Linked DNA regions of Homo sapiens: all the other regions are reported to be linked to region 1. Evidence: microRNA targets listed by miRTarBase, many of them from high-throughput screens and not tested one by one. Region 1 holds a microRNA gene; each other region holds the end of a gene's coding sequence.

Evidence for each region. The annotated mature microRNA hsa-miR-7106-3p reads AGCUCCCUGAAUCCCUGUCCCAG and lies in region 1 at 3,628-3,650, shown strand. An mRNA with a match to its seed (bases 2 to 7 or 8) in the 3' UTR can be bound and repressed. Matches are read on the target gene's strand: a 7mer-m8 pairs with bases 2 to 8, a 7mer-A1 pairs with bases 2 to 7 and ends in A, and an 8mer does both.
Region 2: miRTarBase lists CXXC5 as a target of hsa-miR-7106-3p. Seed matches in the 3' UTR shown: 7mer-m8 at 887-893 and 8mer at 906-913.
Region 3: the mRNA of DCDC2 is a reported target of hsa-miR-7106-3p. Seed matches in the 3' UTR shown: 7mer-A1 at 1,852-1,858.

What each region holds. Positions count from the first base shown.
Region 1 is chr12:113,157,690-113,162,762 of GRCh38, reverse strand. It overlaps MIR7106 (microRNA 7106), which reads left to right and starts at 3,586; the gene lies at 3,586-3,650. It overlaps CFAP73 (cilia and flagella associated protein 73), which reads right to left. Exons shown (of 8, transcript NM_001144872.3): 7 at 5,073; 8 at 3,487-4,062. DDX54 (DEAD-box helicase 54) reads left to right here. Exons shown (of 20, transcript NM_024072.4): 18 at 766-870; 19 at 1,381-1,493; 20 at 3,654-5,073. The coding sequence ends at 3,886.
Region 2 is chr5:139,682,602-139,687,673 of GRCh38, forward strand. CXXC5 (CXXC finger protein 5) reads left to right here. Exons shown (of 3, transcript NM_016463.9): 3 at 262-1,281. The coding sequence ends at 306. Among named protein-coding and RNA genes, the nearest start is that of CXXC5-AS1, 35 kb to the left of the region's middle. RefSeq lists an enhancer at 2,343-2,997.
Region 3 is chr6:24,169,953-24,175,024 of GRCh38, reverse strand. DCDC2 (doublecortin domain containing 2) reads left to right here. Exons shown (of 10, transcript NM_016356.5): 10 at 191-3,270. The coding sequence ends at 295. Among named protein-coding and RNA genes, the nearest start is that of NRSN1, 46 kb to the right of the region's middle.

The DNA of each region.
Region 1 (5,073 bases):
CCCTCCAGGCCCAGGGTGAGTGAGAGAGTGAGCTGCCCCTCCATGCCTGGGGTGAGTGAGCGAGTGAGCCTCCCCTACCTCCATTCCCTGAAGTGAGTGAGCGAGTGAGCCGCCCCTCCATTCCCTGGGGTGAGTGAGCGAGTGAGCCACCCCTCCAGGCCCAGGGTGAGTGATCGAGTGAGCTGCCCTCCATGCCAGCAGGCAGGGTGAGCTCCCTGAAGTCCTCACTCCCATCTGATCCTGCACAGCCCAGATTATGGCCTGGCTGTCCCCCATGTGACCACTCACAGCAGGTGTGATGGCCCCTGGCTGTGCTGTCCCCTTGATTTGATCACACACCACAGAGATCTTGACCCCGTCTATTCTTTTTGCTGGCAAGTCTTTCTAGACAGGGCTCAGGACCCATTCGTTCAGGACTCTAGCGTCTGGAGAGTGTATGTGACTCAACCCAGGGTCACAGCTGGGTAGGGGGAGGGGATTGGAAACCCTCCAGGAGGCCCTTGTCCCTGAGCCAGGCCCCAGTGCTGGCGGCAGTCCTCTGACCTCCGCACTCCCTTTTGAGACCTGGACTGCAGGGAGAGGTGAGGAGGGATAGGGAAGAAGCCTTTATTGAGCGCCAACTGCATGCCAGACATGGCTGCACTGCTTTCCTTTAATGCTCCAACAACCTGACAAGAGGGTCGGGTGAGGAGACAGGCCCCAAGCGGCAGCCGGCACTCCAAGGGTTTCCCTCCACGGCAGCCGTCCCAACTCCCTCTCCTGCAGGGACCGTAAGAAGAAGCGGTTTGTGGGACAGTCAGGACAGGAAGACAAGAAGAAGATTAAGACAGAGAGCGGCCGCTACATCAGCAGCTCCTACAAGCGAGACCTGTATCCTGAGGGGCGTGGCTGGGGAGGGGCGGGGCCGAGGAGCTTCAGCAGGAGCAGCTTCAATTAAGTGGAACCTGGGGGCGGGGGCGGGGGCGGGGAGGAGGGGGCGGGGCTGAGCGGCTTAAGCAGCCGCATCTCCAATAGATGGGACCTGGTGCTGGGGGCGGGGCCGAGCAGCTTCAGCAGCAGCATCTCGAACTAGTGGGACCTGTGCTGGGGGCGGGGCCCAGCAGCTTCAGCAGCAGCATCTCCAGTAAGTGGGGCCTGTGCTGGGGGCGGGCCCAGCAGCTTCAGCAGCGGCATCTCCAATAAGTGGGACCTGGTGCTGGGGGCGGGGCCGAGCAGCTTCAGCAACAGCATCTCCAATAAGTGGGACCTGTGTGCTGGGGGCGGGGCCGAGCAGCTTCAGCTGCGGCTGGGATAACGGAACTCTGTCTGCTGGGGCAGTGTGGGGAGGAGCCTTCTCCCATCCCAGGGGCTTCACGCAGCTTCCTTAACGAGGTTTCCCAGCTATCAGAAGTGGAAACAGAAACAGAAAATTGATGATCGTGACTCGGACGAAGAAGGGGCATCTGACCGGCGAGGCCCAGAGCGAAGAGGTGGGAAGCGAGACCGTGGCCAAGGTGAGAGCCAGGGTGGGGAGTGTGGGTGCACAGGTAGGCAGAGCAGTTGTGGTCAGATTAGGGTAACGCTGAGGCACAGGTGCAGGGGCTACTGCAGAGCCCCAGAGCTGGGTGTGTTGGGGTATGCTGCCAAAACCCTGGGTCCCTCCATGATCCCCCCCACCCAACCCCCACACCCACAGTTTCCCCCTTCCTACTGTCCCGGCCTCTGATGGTCACGAGCACCGCCTGACAGGCGCTGGGAAGTGCCATGCCCCTCAGGTGCCTTGTCCCCGACCCCCTTCCACTTCACAGATGAAGCTACAGGGATAACTTCTGGTAGATGCCCTGTTCACCTAATTAAGCCGATTGTGTAAAATCCTAGAGAACCCGGGAGGTGGAACCTTGTGCAAATGCAGGCCATTTTCACCTGCAAAAATGGCATTTGCATGTGGTTCGACCTGACAGTGAGCATGAATTGATTCCCTGTGGCATCCTTAGGAGTGACGTTCTTTTTAGCAATGCTGTGGGGAAGTTCATGTCACCAAAGACGCAGTCAGAAGCAGCTTTGGTTCTGGGAGGAGGCGATCACAGGGGATGTTGAGGAAGATACTTCCTTGAAATGTGGGTTGGCAAGTGGTACATTTGGTCATCTGAGGACTTGGACCTCTTTGATCTGGCCTGGGTCCCTCAGCCAGTAACAAGCTAAGGTGGATTTGAAGCCGGCTCTGTCTGCCAGAGCCTGTGCTTAAGGGCTGTTATCAGGGAGGGGCTCCCGCTTGCTGGGTGCAGGCAGGCTCTGTCCTGGAAGGCCACACATGACCTGGGAGGCAAGGTGACTGCGAATACCCATTTTACAGGCCAGGAAACAGGTGCCTTATGAGGGCTATGACTGAACCTGGGTCACCCAGCTGCCCAAGGCTCCCACCTGGAGTCTTCCCTGGGGAGAGGGGAGTTTGGGACCATGTCTTGGGTCTCTCTCAGATGGCCTTAGCCCCTGCTTGTGTCCCTCCACCTCCTGGGGCTGGTCACTGCCTCCCCTGGGTGTCTCTGTGAGCCTGCGTGCATTTGCCTGGGCCTGTTCTCTGTGGCTCCTCCCTCTCCAGCTCTCCCATCTGTGGGAGTGTCTCCTTGTCAGCATGGCTGGGTGGGGACCACCCACACCTCACTTCTCAGCCTGTTTTTACCTAGGTGAAACAGCAGCTTCTGCTGCGAGCATTGCCGTGCAGTGGGCGTGCAGGGGCTGGGGAGACGGGGGCGACCTGTGGGCTTTGGGAAAAAGCAGCTGTTCTTCCTTTGCTGTCCTCATTGGAGGTGATAGGTCCTGCGAGGCACCCTGGCTCCATTGGAGACAGCTGGGACCACCTTAATGGTCATCCCTCTAGGAGCCCTGGGGAGGCTGCTGTTATGAATGGGGAAGAGGAGGAGGAGGACACAGGGCTTAGTGGGAGCCAGGGAGGGTGGTGCTTGCCTCCCGGAGAACTAGAAGAATGGACTACCTGATGCCCACCTGTGGGGCTGGGGCAGGGTCGCTGACCTCTGCTGCTGCTGCTGCTTTGCTGTGTGATCTCAGATAAGTCCCTCTCCCTCTCTGGCCTTCTTTGATTCCTCTCCCACCTAAAGGAAGGTTCATCTACACTCTTTTTTCATCTAACAAGCCTAGAGCATGGTGTCCATGGAGACAGAGGCTGAGGTCTGTATCGGTTACTATGGGGGGCCTCAGAGCCTGGCGTGCCGTAGGTGTGCTGTGGAGACATACACTCCTTGGTTGGAGAATTTTTAATAGTAACAGTCATGCCCAAAAGGCTCCCACTATGGGACAGGCCTTGAAATTCTGACCACTTTACACCATGGAAATGCATTTACTCTTCACCCATGAGGGAGGTGCTGTGATTTATAATTCATAGATGGGGAAACTGAGGCACAGAGCCGTTAACTTCTTGCCCACGGTCCAAGAGGTCACAGCTGGGATTTGAACCCCAGCGGTTCTGGCCCCGTGTTATTGACCACTCCATGAGGCTGCCTAAAACTTTATTAGCCACCTACTGTGTACAGACACTGGGCCACAGCAATAAGCACAGAACAGGAGTAGGGGCAGGGGAGGAGTCTGCAAGCTTCTGGGAGGAGGGGATCTTGGGAGTGATCCCAACAGCTGAGCTCCCTGAATCCCTGTCCCAGCAGGTGCATCCCGGCCCCACGCCCCAGGCACCCCTGCAGGCCGAGTCCGCCCGGAACTCAAGACCAAGCAGCAGATCCTGAAGCAGCGGCGCCGGGCCCAGAAGCTGCACTTCCTGCAGCGTGGTGGCCTCAAGCAGCTCTCTGCCCGCAACCGCCGCCGCGTCCAGGAGCTGCAGCAGGGCGCCTTCGGCCGGGGTGCCCGCTCCAAGAAGGGCAAGATGCGGAAGAGGATGTGAGGACCAGGACCCAGCCCCGTGGCTCCTTGATTGGCCTTAGGGTGGGCATCAGCAGACGTTCCCGTGCACCACTGTGTGCCTGGCCCTGTGCTGGGCACTGGGGGCACTCCCTGCAGGAGCCATCATCTGTGAAAAGGAGCACTGTATGGCCACAGAAGGGCAGCAGCTGCGTCAGCCTAAGACAGAGACATTTGAACAGGGCCTTGAAGGGTGTGCAGGAGTTCGCCAGCAAAGCCAGGCAGGCCAAGACTTGAGTTGGCAACTCAGCTGCTGCTGCTTCCATGTGTTCTGGGTTCAGAGGTCATGGCTGCACCGGTCAGAGCCCTGAGTGCCTCAGGGTTTGGCAATGGAATTTTTAATGTAATAAATCTTTATTGAGCACTGCTGGTGGCCAGGAGTGCGGTCTACTTGGGGAACTGGAATGGAGAGACCCAGGTACTAAAATCCCAGCTAACGTGGCAGAGGAGTTGCGGGTCTCCTGAGGGTGAGTTCTGCTGCCTTGTCCATTTAGCGATGAGGAAAGTGAAGCTCAGAGCACAAACCAGGTGCCAGAGGCGGGAGTTGGTCCCCCTTCCTCCCACTGGACATGGTTGCAGCTGGGAGTGGGCTGGGGGAGGGGAACAGGATGCCCAGCCCAGGGGGCAAGGACACAGCTGCTCCCCTCTGGCTATGAAGAGGTTAACGCGGCCCCTCCACACCTGGAGGTCAGAACCTGGCCTGTCCTCTGTCTTCTTGCCACCCACCCCCTGTTTGAGGTTCTGAGAAGGTCAAGGGCAGCCCCAGCAGCTGGATTCTCAGGCTGGGCCCCTCACCTGGCAGAGTCCATAGTGGAGGGGGCCTTGGTGATCTCTCATCTAGCATGGACCCTGTTCTGAGACCTGACAAAGAGTTTTTTTTCATGCCCCAACCACCCTGGCAGGGAGGGCCTGGTCTGATCTCATTTTAGAGGCAGTTGCCCCACACATAGCCCCTTGACCTTCCCATCACCTCCTCATCAGGGCCTGCATTTATGGAGTGCTTGCTATGTGCCCCTCATGGCAGGCCCACAGCACTCTGAACAGGCACAGCCCTCCCATCTTCCCAATGAGGAAACGGATTCAGGAAGAGCCACTCAGTCCACACCCCATTGGAAATGTGGGCCCTCCTATCTCAGGGTCTCTCAGGGGTTCCCTCTCCCGCTGCTCACC
Region 2 (5,072 bases), not on the chromosome of region 1:
GGAAGGGACTTCTTCTCTGGAAGGAGGGTTCCTGGGCACAGTGGCTCAGGAGGCCTCAGAGTCCTCGGGGCCTTCCAGCAGCCCAGCAGGTCAAGCGCCTCCTTTGGCCTGGCTGGGGTGGCAGGAGCTCCGAGGGGTGGCTGCTCTTCCTCCATGCCTGTCCCTCCGCCATGAGGCCATCCATGGGGGAACGTCTTTGCTCCAGGCCTACCCGGACCCTGACTGAACTCTCTCCTTGTTTTTGTCTCCCGCCCCCGCCAGAAGGTGATGCTTCCGACGGGAGCCGCCTTCCGGTGGTTTCAGTGACGGCGGCGGAACCCAAAGCTGCCCTCTCCGTGCAATGTCACTGCTCGTGTGGTCTCCAGCAAGGGATTCGGGCGAAGACAAACGGATGCACCCGTCTTTAGAACCAAAAATATTCTCTCACAGATTTCATTCCTGTTTTTATATATATATTTTTTGTTGTCGTTTTAACATCTCCACGTCCCTAGCATAAAAAGAAAAAGAAAAAAATTTAAACTGCTTTTTCGGAAGAACAACAACAAAAAAGAGGTAAAGACGAATCTATAAAGTACCGAGACTTCCTGGGCAAAGAATGGACAATCAGTTTCCTTCCTGTGTCGATGTCGATGTTGTCTGTGCAGGAGATGCAGTTTTTGTGTAGAGAATGTAAATTTTCTGTAACCTTTTGAAATCTAGTTACTAATAAGCACTACTGTAATTTAGCACAGTTTAACTCCACCCTCATTTAAACTTCCTTTGATTCTTTCCGACCATGAAATAGTGCATAGTTTGCCTGGAGAATCCACTCACGTTCATAAAGAGAATGTTGATGGCGCCGTGTAGAAGCCGCTCTGTATCCATCCACGCGTGCAGAGCTGCCAGCAGGGAGCTCACAGAAGGGGAGGGAGCACCAGGCCAGCTGAGCTGCACCCACAGTCCCGAGACTGGGATCCCCCACCCCAACAGTGATTTTGGAAAAAAAAATGAAAGTTCTGTTCGTTTATCCATTGCGATCTGGGGAGCCCCATCTCGATATTTCCAATCCTGGCTACTTTTCTTAGAGAAAATAAGTCCTTTTTTTCTGGCCTTGCTAATGGCAACAGAAGAAAGGGCTTCTTTGCGTGGTCCCCTGCTGGTGGGGGTGGGTCCCCAGGGGGCCCCCTGCGGCCTGGGCCCCCCTGCCCACGGCCAGCTTCCTGCTGATGAACATGCTGTTTGTATTGTTTTAGGAAACCAGGCTGTTTTGTGAATAAAACGAATGCATGTTTGTGTCACGAAGCACCGCTGGCTTCTTGCTCTCCGGTTTTGGGGGGCTGACTTGGGGGCCGTTCCTGAGCAGGGATTGTCTGGGACCACCTGGAGGAGGAAGAAGGATGGCCCAGGGACATTTAGAATGGGAATTTCTTGGGGAAGAGAGGCCTCTGGATCCAGAATGGGGGAGAGCAGGAGCAACCAGCCCAGCAGACAGGAGGGAAAGGCTCTTAATCTGGAAGTCACTGCCTGGTTGCACCCCATGCCTCAGAACCTGGACCTCCAGGGACCTTCACTCACTTGGGGCCACCTCTGTTCACTCACCTAAGTTCATCAGGGCCTGATGAGTAAAGCAACCAGCACCACGAGGCAGGTGGGGGTAAGGCTGAGCTGCCTGTTCAGGGTCTTCTTTCTTTCTTTCTTACCTGGCAGGGATCTAGTGCTCCCGCAGCCACCAATGTCATTCTCCAGGGAATAGTTTCAGCTCGGCTTCGTGGGGACCTGGCTGTACACACACGCCTATTCCTCTTTAGGCCTGAGGGCTGCTAGGCTGAGTTACGGGGGTGTCCTTGGCTTTGACTGTCCCCACTCTCAGAGGGTTTGTTGGTACAAGGCTGCTGGGGACCTCAGAGGTCAAATGTCTGGGGAAGTCACCACACAGCCACATGGTCTGGGCCAGGGCAGCCTGAACAGGAAGGGGTGGCAGTGGCATGCCCCTCCCTGTACATCACAGAGGCCAACCTGAAGGAGGAGGCTTAGCCATCCACTGGGGGAGCGTTCTTCTCACCCAGCTGCTTTGAGCCTGGCTGAGATGGAGGCTAGACTTCAGGAAGGACTTCCTGACAGTGTTGGGCACTGGCTTCAGGTGGGTGAGAGCTGGAGCGATTTCTGAGGCTGAGTGGGCAGTGAGGTGGGGGAGATGGGCTATCTCTGCCATTGTCCTGAGAGGAGAAAGCAGCCATGTTGGGTGGGGGTGGCGCTGACCCCCAACCCCTTCCCAGGTGTCACAAGCTCCCTTCGAGCGCCAGGGCCTCAGCAGCCTGGCCTGGCACAGCGGGGGCAGGCAGGGGCGGTGGGAGGCAGCTTTCAACTTCAGCTCTGCCTGGGAAAAATTCCCTTTCATGTGGCTGCCTGTGATCTCTCCAGGCGGCTCTGCCGAAGGGGGGTGTCCAGCAGGGAGTAGGGGGAGGTGTTGCAGCTGGGGGGCACCCTCACCCCCAGCACAAGGCAAACAGCGGCACCTCCAGAACCTCGAGGAGGGTGGGGAGGGTCCTCCTGTGGGGAGTGGGGGGAGCCTGGCCAGCAGGGGGCACCGGGCAGGAGGCCCCTTCCTGCCTCCGCCCGCTGCTGGCAGCACACAGGCTGCAGATGGCCTCAGCCGGCCCTCGTTGGCACACCTACAGGTGTGGGGTGGACGGCTCTGTTGCCAGCCCAGAGGGGGTGCTGTGACTCAGCCGGCCTGTACCTTTCAGTGTGCCAACCCACAGCCCAGCGTGTCTCCTGAGCCCACTCCCCAGCACACGGCCGAAACTCAGAGCTCCTCACCTGTTCCAGCTTCACACTGCTTTGTGGAAATGGTAAGCCAGCCCCTCTGTTTGGAGGCCAGGGGTGGGGACAGCTGTGAGGCTGGCTGAAAACATGCTGAGGACTCAGTTACCTCATCTGGGAAACGGGACAATAATTGTTTCCCCCATAAAGTTGCCTGAGGATGAAATGCGATCACACTTGGGAAGGGCCTGACTTGCAAGCTCTGTCAATGGCAGCTGGTGTTGCTATTTTTAAACTATTATTCACCTAAATCTCACCAAGATGTCCCTCACCTTCTGCCTGGCTGTGTGTCCTCCCTGAAGCCCTGGCCACCCCCACCTCCCACCTCCCACTTCCCACCTCCGTAGAGTGACCCAGCCTCTGGCCCTTCCCCTACCTGGATGCAGCCCGACCCCAGCCTGCACCAGCTTTCTGTCTCTCTGGCTCACTCTCTGCATGTCCTGAAGGTCTCTTTCGGTCCCTGACGCTCCTGTGTCTTTGGGTCTCCATCTTTCCTGATCTCTAAGCCTCTCCGTGTCTCTGGGTCTCTGCCCCTCCTGTCTCTCCATCTCTGTATCTTGTACTCTGTCTGTTGCAGGCTCACCCCTGCTGTTCCCCAGCTGACGGAGACTTCCTTAGAGGCAGGCTCCCTGGCAGGGTTGTGTACCCAGCTCCCCTCCCCTCAGGTGCCCTCACCTCTCCTCTGCTACAGTTGGGAAACTGACTTCCTGGTGACCCAGGAGCCTTTCCTCCAGGTACCCTGTACCCTGACCTGGGTGATCTGGCATTTAGAGCCAGCTCTAGACACAGAACGGTGGGGGTTTGAGAGGCTGGGTGCACACACTGGGCTGGAGAGAAGTCCAGCCTCCAGGTAGCCCCTGCGTGGACGTGTGTGTGTGTGTGTGTGTGTGTGTGTGTGTGTGAGTGATGCTTTAAGGGCCTGACAATTGTGTGAGGCTTTGTGCAGTAATGTGGCTATGTGTGACATCGGGTGTGATATGCAAATGGGTTTGTGACAGTTTATTGGAGACTGAGATGTGAATGGGTTAGTGTATGTCAGTGGCCACACTTTGGAATGTTCTGTGACATTGCGTGTGTACTCTTGTGACATTGTACAGTTCTGTAACAGACCCAGTGTGATACCGGCTTGTACAACTGAATGTGTGACTTTGGGTGATTCTGTGTGAGTGTGTGACATTGAGTGATTCTATGTGAGTGTGTCACTTTGGGTTTACAACACACGTGGCATTGCGTGACCCTGTGGCAAAACTGGGTGGTTCAATAAGTGTGTGACTTTGTGTCTGTGTGGCCATCATGGATGTGGGCTGGGACTGACCAGGGATTGTGTGTGTGTGATGTCTCCGTGTGACTATAGTGTGACCCTGTGATGCTGCCTGCATAACCCTGGGTGTGTGGTCATGGCTTTGTGTCAGTGTGCACCTGTGATCCTCTCAGTGTTGCTGACACTATTGCCTTGTGTGTCTGCCTCCAGCACTTCCTGGGTCTCCGCCCTGAAAGCCTCTCTAGGGAGAGAGTGGGGGATCTGACAGCCCCTCTCACCTGCAGCCTGTGCCCTCGCATGGCCCTGAGGCCCAGTCTGGATGGGGGAGCTGGCGTGGGGGCAGCAGGCGCAGTTCCCACGGCCGCTGCGGCCCCTCTCCCAGCCCCATCACCACCGGCTTCAACTCCACAGAATATCCTGGCAACCCCGGCCTCTTTGTTCTCTGAGGCCGCCAAAGGCCTCCCCCAACCCCAGCCTGCCCAGCGCCTGCCAGGCGCCCCCTCCCCCGACAGCAGCCAGTCTTGGCCTGACCTAGTCTCTAGCTGCCTTTATCCCCCACCCAGACTGAGGCGCCTGTCCCATGCCCTGGACCTGACTCAGGACTCCAGACGAGGCCTTTGACCCTCTGCTCTGAGCTTGCTGTGGTTGCGCTGTGCAGGAAGAAGGAAGAAGGATAGGTCCTGTGGCTGTACTGGGTGATTGTGGGCCAGGAGCTGGGCTGTCTATACGAGTACTTCCCCTTGGCCCAAGGCTGGTTGGAGGCCCAGGGTTGGTTTCAGTTTGTCCAGTAAGTTTACTTCTTTGGCCCCCAAAAGTCATCAGGACAGAAATTATTACCCATTTTATTGGTAAGAAACTGAAGCCTAGAGAGGGTATGTGACTTCCCCTATAGCAAGAGCAAGATGGTAGCAGGGACCTGATTAGAACCCAGGCTCCTGGCTACCTTGAGAGAAAAATCAGGTACCTCCAAAAGAATGGAAAGGGGGCCTGGGAGTCTGGACACATGGGT
Region 3 (5,072 bases), not on the chromosome of region 1:
TACAAGTGTTGAGAAAACAGTATGTCCACTGGGTAATGATAGACAAAAAAACAAAGGGAACCCCAGGAACTCTTTTTAGTTAAATATTTATATAATTAAATAGAATCTTGAGTAATTTTTTCTTTATAAATGTCATTACCTTTGTGAACCAAACAGCTGAATACCTTTGTTTTGATCTATTTTCTTCTAGGCTGATGTAGACCCTCAAAGACCACCAAGGCCAGAAGTAAAAATTACCAGTCCAGAAGAAAATGAAAACAACCAACAAAACAAGGACTATGCTGCCGTGGCTTAGAACATTTTTAAAAAGAGAGTATATGGATCGCAAGAAAAATGAAGGGTTATCATACTTGAAAGATAAGCACATAGTTATTGCTGAATATAATGTGACACTATGGTCGAATACTACCTACGAATTATAACATTAGAAGCCTAGTGGAAAGACCAGATAACTTTAAATGGCTACTAAAGGATAATTACTTACTTTTATTGCATGTGTTTTAAAAGTCATATAGAAATATTAAATAAGACGGACAGAGGAGAATTTGCACTGGAAGACAATTGCCACTTGTAAAGGATGAAAAATAGGATCACTCTTATTGTACGCTTTATTATAAGTTTAGAAGGCAGTTTATTCTAAATAATTTTTCTCTAGGAAGGCGTAGAATTTTAAAGAACTGGTAATAGGAAAGCATGTACTATTTTCTTAAAGCAATAAACTCTTGAATGAACAGATTGCGATTTACTTTCAGACATAATTTGGAGATGGCAGTAGATCAAAATGTGTCCATGACTTGTTAACATGCCTTTCTTTCTTCCTCCTTAGCCAAAATCCACCTTTGAACTACAAAGACAGAGCAAGGCGTTCATTTTGGTGGGAGGAAGCATTGGTTCAGAGTGTTAGTGACTAGTATCGCCATGCCGTCACTTAAATGCTTTCAGGCTTGCATGCTTGTGGCTCCAATGGCGCACACTCAGGAAGGAATTGTAAAGGAGCACCCAGTTATATTATAAAGCCTGGATGTATGGTTTGCAGATAATGGAAATCCTGTGGATTTTCACTGATCCAGTCTATCTTTACCAATAGTATCTCTCTCTTCTCCCTTATGTTATTAGAGAACCTGATATTGGCTATTCCAAAGATTAAATTATTTTCAAATAGTTTTCAACAAAAATAAAAGTGTATTAGGAAGAAAAAAGTAGACTATATGAAGAGTTTGTGACTGCTCAATTTAACTTGTTTTTTGCCTTATTTCTATTAAGACTGTTTTACTATGTTTTTGCCCTAGGGATATCAGCAAATATTTATTTTTCCTAGCATGATATAGTTAGAATTTCAAGCAGATTTCTTTGTAATTAGAAGGCATCTGATAGAAATTGTAAAACTTTAGAAGTTATTATAATGAAACCAATTCCTGAATCACAACTTCATGGACTGACTAAATTGATTTATAGTTGCCTTGTGAGGTATGTATGGGGAAAACATAAAAACATAATTAAAACATAATTTCGTCCTTTTTATGAATTCTTAAGAGATGTTCTTCCATAAATATAGAAATAATATATTTTTCTTAAAGGATATATTTTTAATTATGTGGAAGTTGTAAGCTTGAAATTTTAACTTCTAGTGCTTTTCTAAAATTCACAATTACAAGTTTAAAACATTTTTTCTCTTCCAGGTTTCATTTGGAATAAAGAGTTGGCAGTTATATAAAGCACTTAATAATACTATAGAAAATAGATGTGTTTTTTCTTAATATGATTTTGGTATTTTCCACAGATCAGAAGTGTAAACAGAGAGATAATGTAACAGTATTTGGAAGAGATAATGACACAAGGATATAGTGATCTGGGAGCATGAATTAGAAACAGGGTACTATGTTTCTGGTGTAAAATCTAAATTGTGCTTTCTACTAGCGTTACTTTTTCAAATGGGATGATATAAAGCACTGTGGGCTATAAGCAACAATCTTGGGTTGGTAGGCAAATAGACCAATTGATCTTTATTATTATTATTATTATTATTATTATTATTTTTTGAGATGAAGTCTTGCTCTTGTCGCCCAGGCTGGGTGCAGTGGCATGATCTTGGCTTACTGCAACCTCTGCCTCCTGGGTTCAAGCACCTGAGCCTCCCGAGTAGCTGGGATTACAGGCATCTGCCACCACACCTGGCTAATTTTTGTATTTTTTGTAGAGACAGATGTTTCACCATGTTGGCCAGGCTGGTCTCAAACTCCTGACCTCAGGTGATCCGCCCGCCTTTGCATCCCAAAATGCTGGGATTACAGGTGTGAGCCACAGCACCCGGTCCCAGTTGGTCTTTTAATATTAAATTTGTGCACTATTACTGGGTCTGGAGTTAATGATTTCAAATAGTTTCTAAAAATAACTGATTAAATGTAAGAAATTATAACTAATTATCAAGGTGATTCTCTTTTGTTTCTTCAATGGAGAGTTTCTCTTTCTCTTTTCCTCCTCTAATAAAAATATTTCTTTTTTTCCTGTCCTTTTATTCATTATATTATGAAACTTAGGTTTTAGGAAACACCTTAAGCGTCATTTTAATGAAGCACAACATTGATATTTTACATGAATAATAACGTTTGGTATTTTAAATATACTTCAAGGGGGTAATAAGCCACAATAACTGTACCAAAAAAACTTAAAAATGGGGACATATTCATCCCTTGTGTGTGCATATTTTACCACTTGTTGACAAGATACAATTGTGACCTACTTTGAGGGGATGAATAACGACTTATCACTTTAAGACACTTTGCAAACATGTTACTAAAAAAAGGTGCCTAGCCAAGGAAAAAACCATTCACTTGGAATTAAAATTGTGGATGTCACTTCAGAGATGACTTTAACATAAATGCTGAAAGTTCATTCACCTCACAAATGTGGCAGTTTTCTCTGTGGAGAATGGTGGTCTCCGTGGCAGACTGGCTCTCCAAATTAAATGAAACTCATTGACAGACCTGGGACCTTTTATGTGAGTGGACAGACAAGATCTTGGTTTGGCTTCATGTACTGTTTTCTAGAGAGAGTGCTACGAAAAACTTATGATGCTTTTATGTGATAACCAATATAATGCTTTAATATGTTAATTCTTTGTGATGCTATATACATAGTTTTTATAGTTTTATGAAACCACTTTGTTAAACTTATCTGGATTTTAAGACACTTGTAAACAAATGGTTTGTTAGTAAAATTGGGGCATTAAGAGTTTTACAGAGCAAATAAAGAAGATTTTGACAAAAGTCATTTTGAGGCTAAGGGTGTTTTACCTGGGTTAACTTCTGTTAAAATAGCTATTGAGTGCCCATTGACTTATAAAATACGATACTATGACCATAAAATAACTTTTTACTTCTTATTCTTCTCTATGACCTTAGGATGACTTTATTTTTTTAAGACATTTTTCCTATATGTTTTTGGGGGAATGTTAGGTTGCCACACTCATAGGAAAAGTGTGATGCTATCATGCCTCCTGTTTTATTGTAAAGGTGTGAATTCTTGCTATGTGGTGTGTGAAGACAGAACTATCCCATACATACGTGGTTCAGAGTGAGATATCTCTAGGCTCACAGTTGTGAACCCATATTAATATGGTATTATTCCTGCCAACTCTTCCAATTTATAGCTCATAAACTAACATCCTAAACATTGTCATTGAATGACCTACCTTATACACAAAGGATAAAGTTCATTCACCTAGAAAAAAATCTGTGCATTTAAATTAGTGGCCGCAAGACAACAGGAAGCTTTCTTTCATTTTTTGTTCAACAAACCTTGCAAAAGCAAAGTTTAAAAAGTAGATTAATTCATCAACAGAAAGCATCACATGGAAACTGTGGCCAATCTGAAGAGAAATATAGCATGTAGACATAGATATGTATCAAATACTTATACAGATGCACTCACACACTTTAAAACATTAAAAAGGCCTCCTGAGGCACAGCGTTATTAATAAAACAAGGCTCTTTTGGGTGAAGTTGAGAGAAGCAATGAGTTAAAACGTGAGAGGAAATGCTAAGAAATGATATATATTATGGTGCTTTAAATCTTGATTTCCTAAGACTTTAAGAGATTTAAAATTCTTCTCCAAATAAGAAACCAGCATGTCAATGAAAAATGTATTCTAGGGAGGTGTTGAAACAAATCCGGTTTTTAAAATGTGATATATCACATAAACCAAAACAGAAACCAAGACATATCTTGTTTTCCTGAAGTAACTACAGAGCATGGTTCTTTTCCATCAACCTTAAGCACGATACATTTCAGGTGTAGATTCTTTTATACCAATACAGATTCTGTTATTACTGTTTGTGACCATGTGTGTGCATGTGTGATTTACATAGATGTGTCAGGACTCTTTTTCATACCAGTTAGCCGGGGTATCACAAATAGAATGAAAGACTGACTTATTGGTCCATTAGTTTATATAATGTTCAGGTTCAGTGCGGAAGCATTTTGGCATTCTTCAGGAATGAAACCATTTTTAAAAGGTTAGTCTGTTACTCTAAGATGATGAACACATACAGTTCTTTGTCATTAAATATCATTTTTGTAAATACCACAAGATTTTTCCTCTTTAAAACATATCGGGACATTTAGATGGGACTGATTTTTGTTCTCCCTACATGAAATTTGTATATTTCCTCCCATGAAGTTTGAGTGACATGAATGGGGAATACAAGAGTGTTCCCTTATGTTGATAAGGAAAAAGATACTGTTTTTTGAAGAGGCATAACATCCTGTAGGAGATGGGGAGTTAGGACAGTTTTTAAAAATGCCTGGATTACCATAAGGCATTTATAAAATGAGGAGGTGTAACCAGTGGAGCTCTGTTGACTTAACGCCAACAACGACTTCAGCTTTACTCTAAGAATGGGACCAGATGAATTCTCTGTAGTTTCATCAGCTTGAACGATATAGTTTGTTTCATTTATTGTCACGAATGCAATGACATATGGAAAGAGGGAATGATTGTAGTCATTCTTAGGAGAATTTTCGAGAAAGCCTGTTTTGTCTTTTGCTTCAGTGTTTTTTCTTGTGCCTTAAAT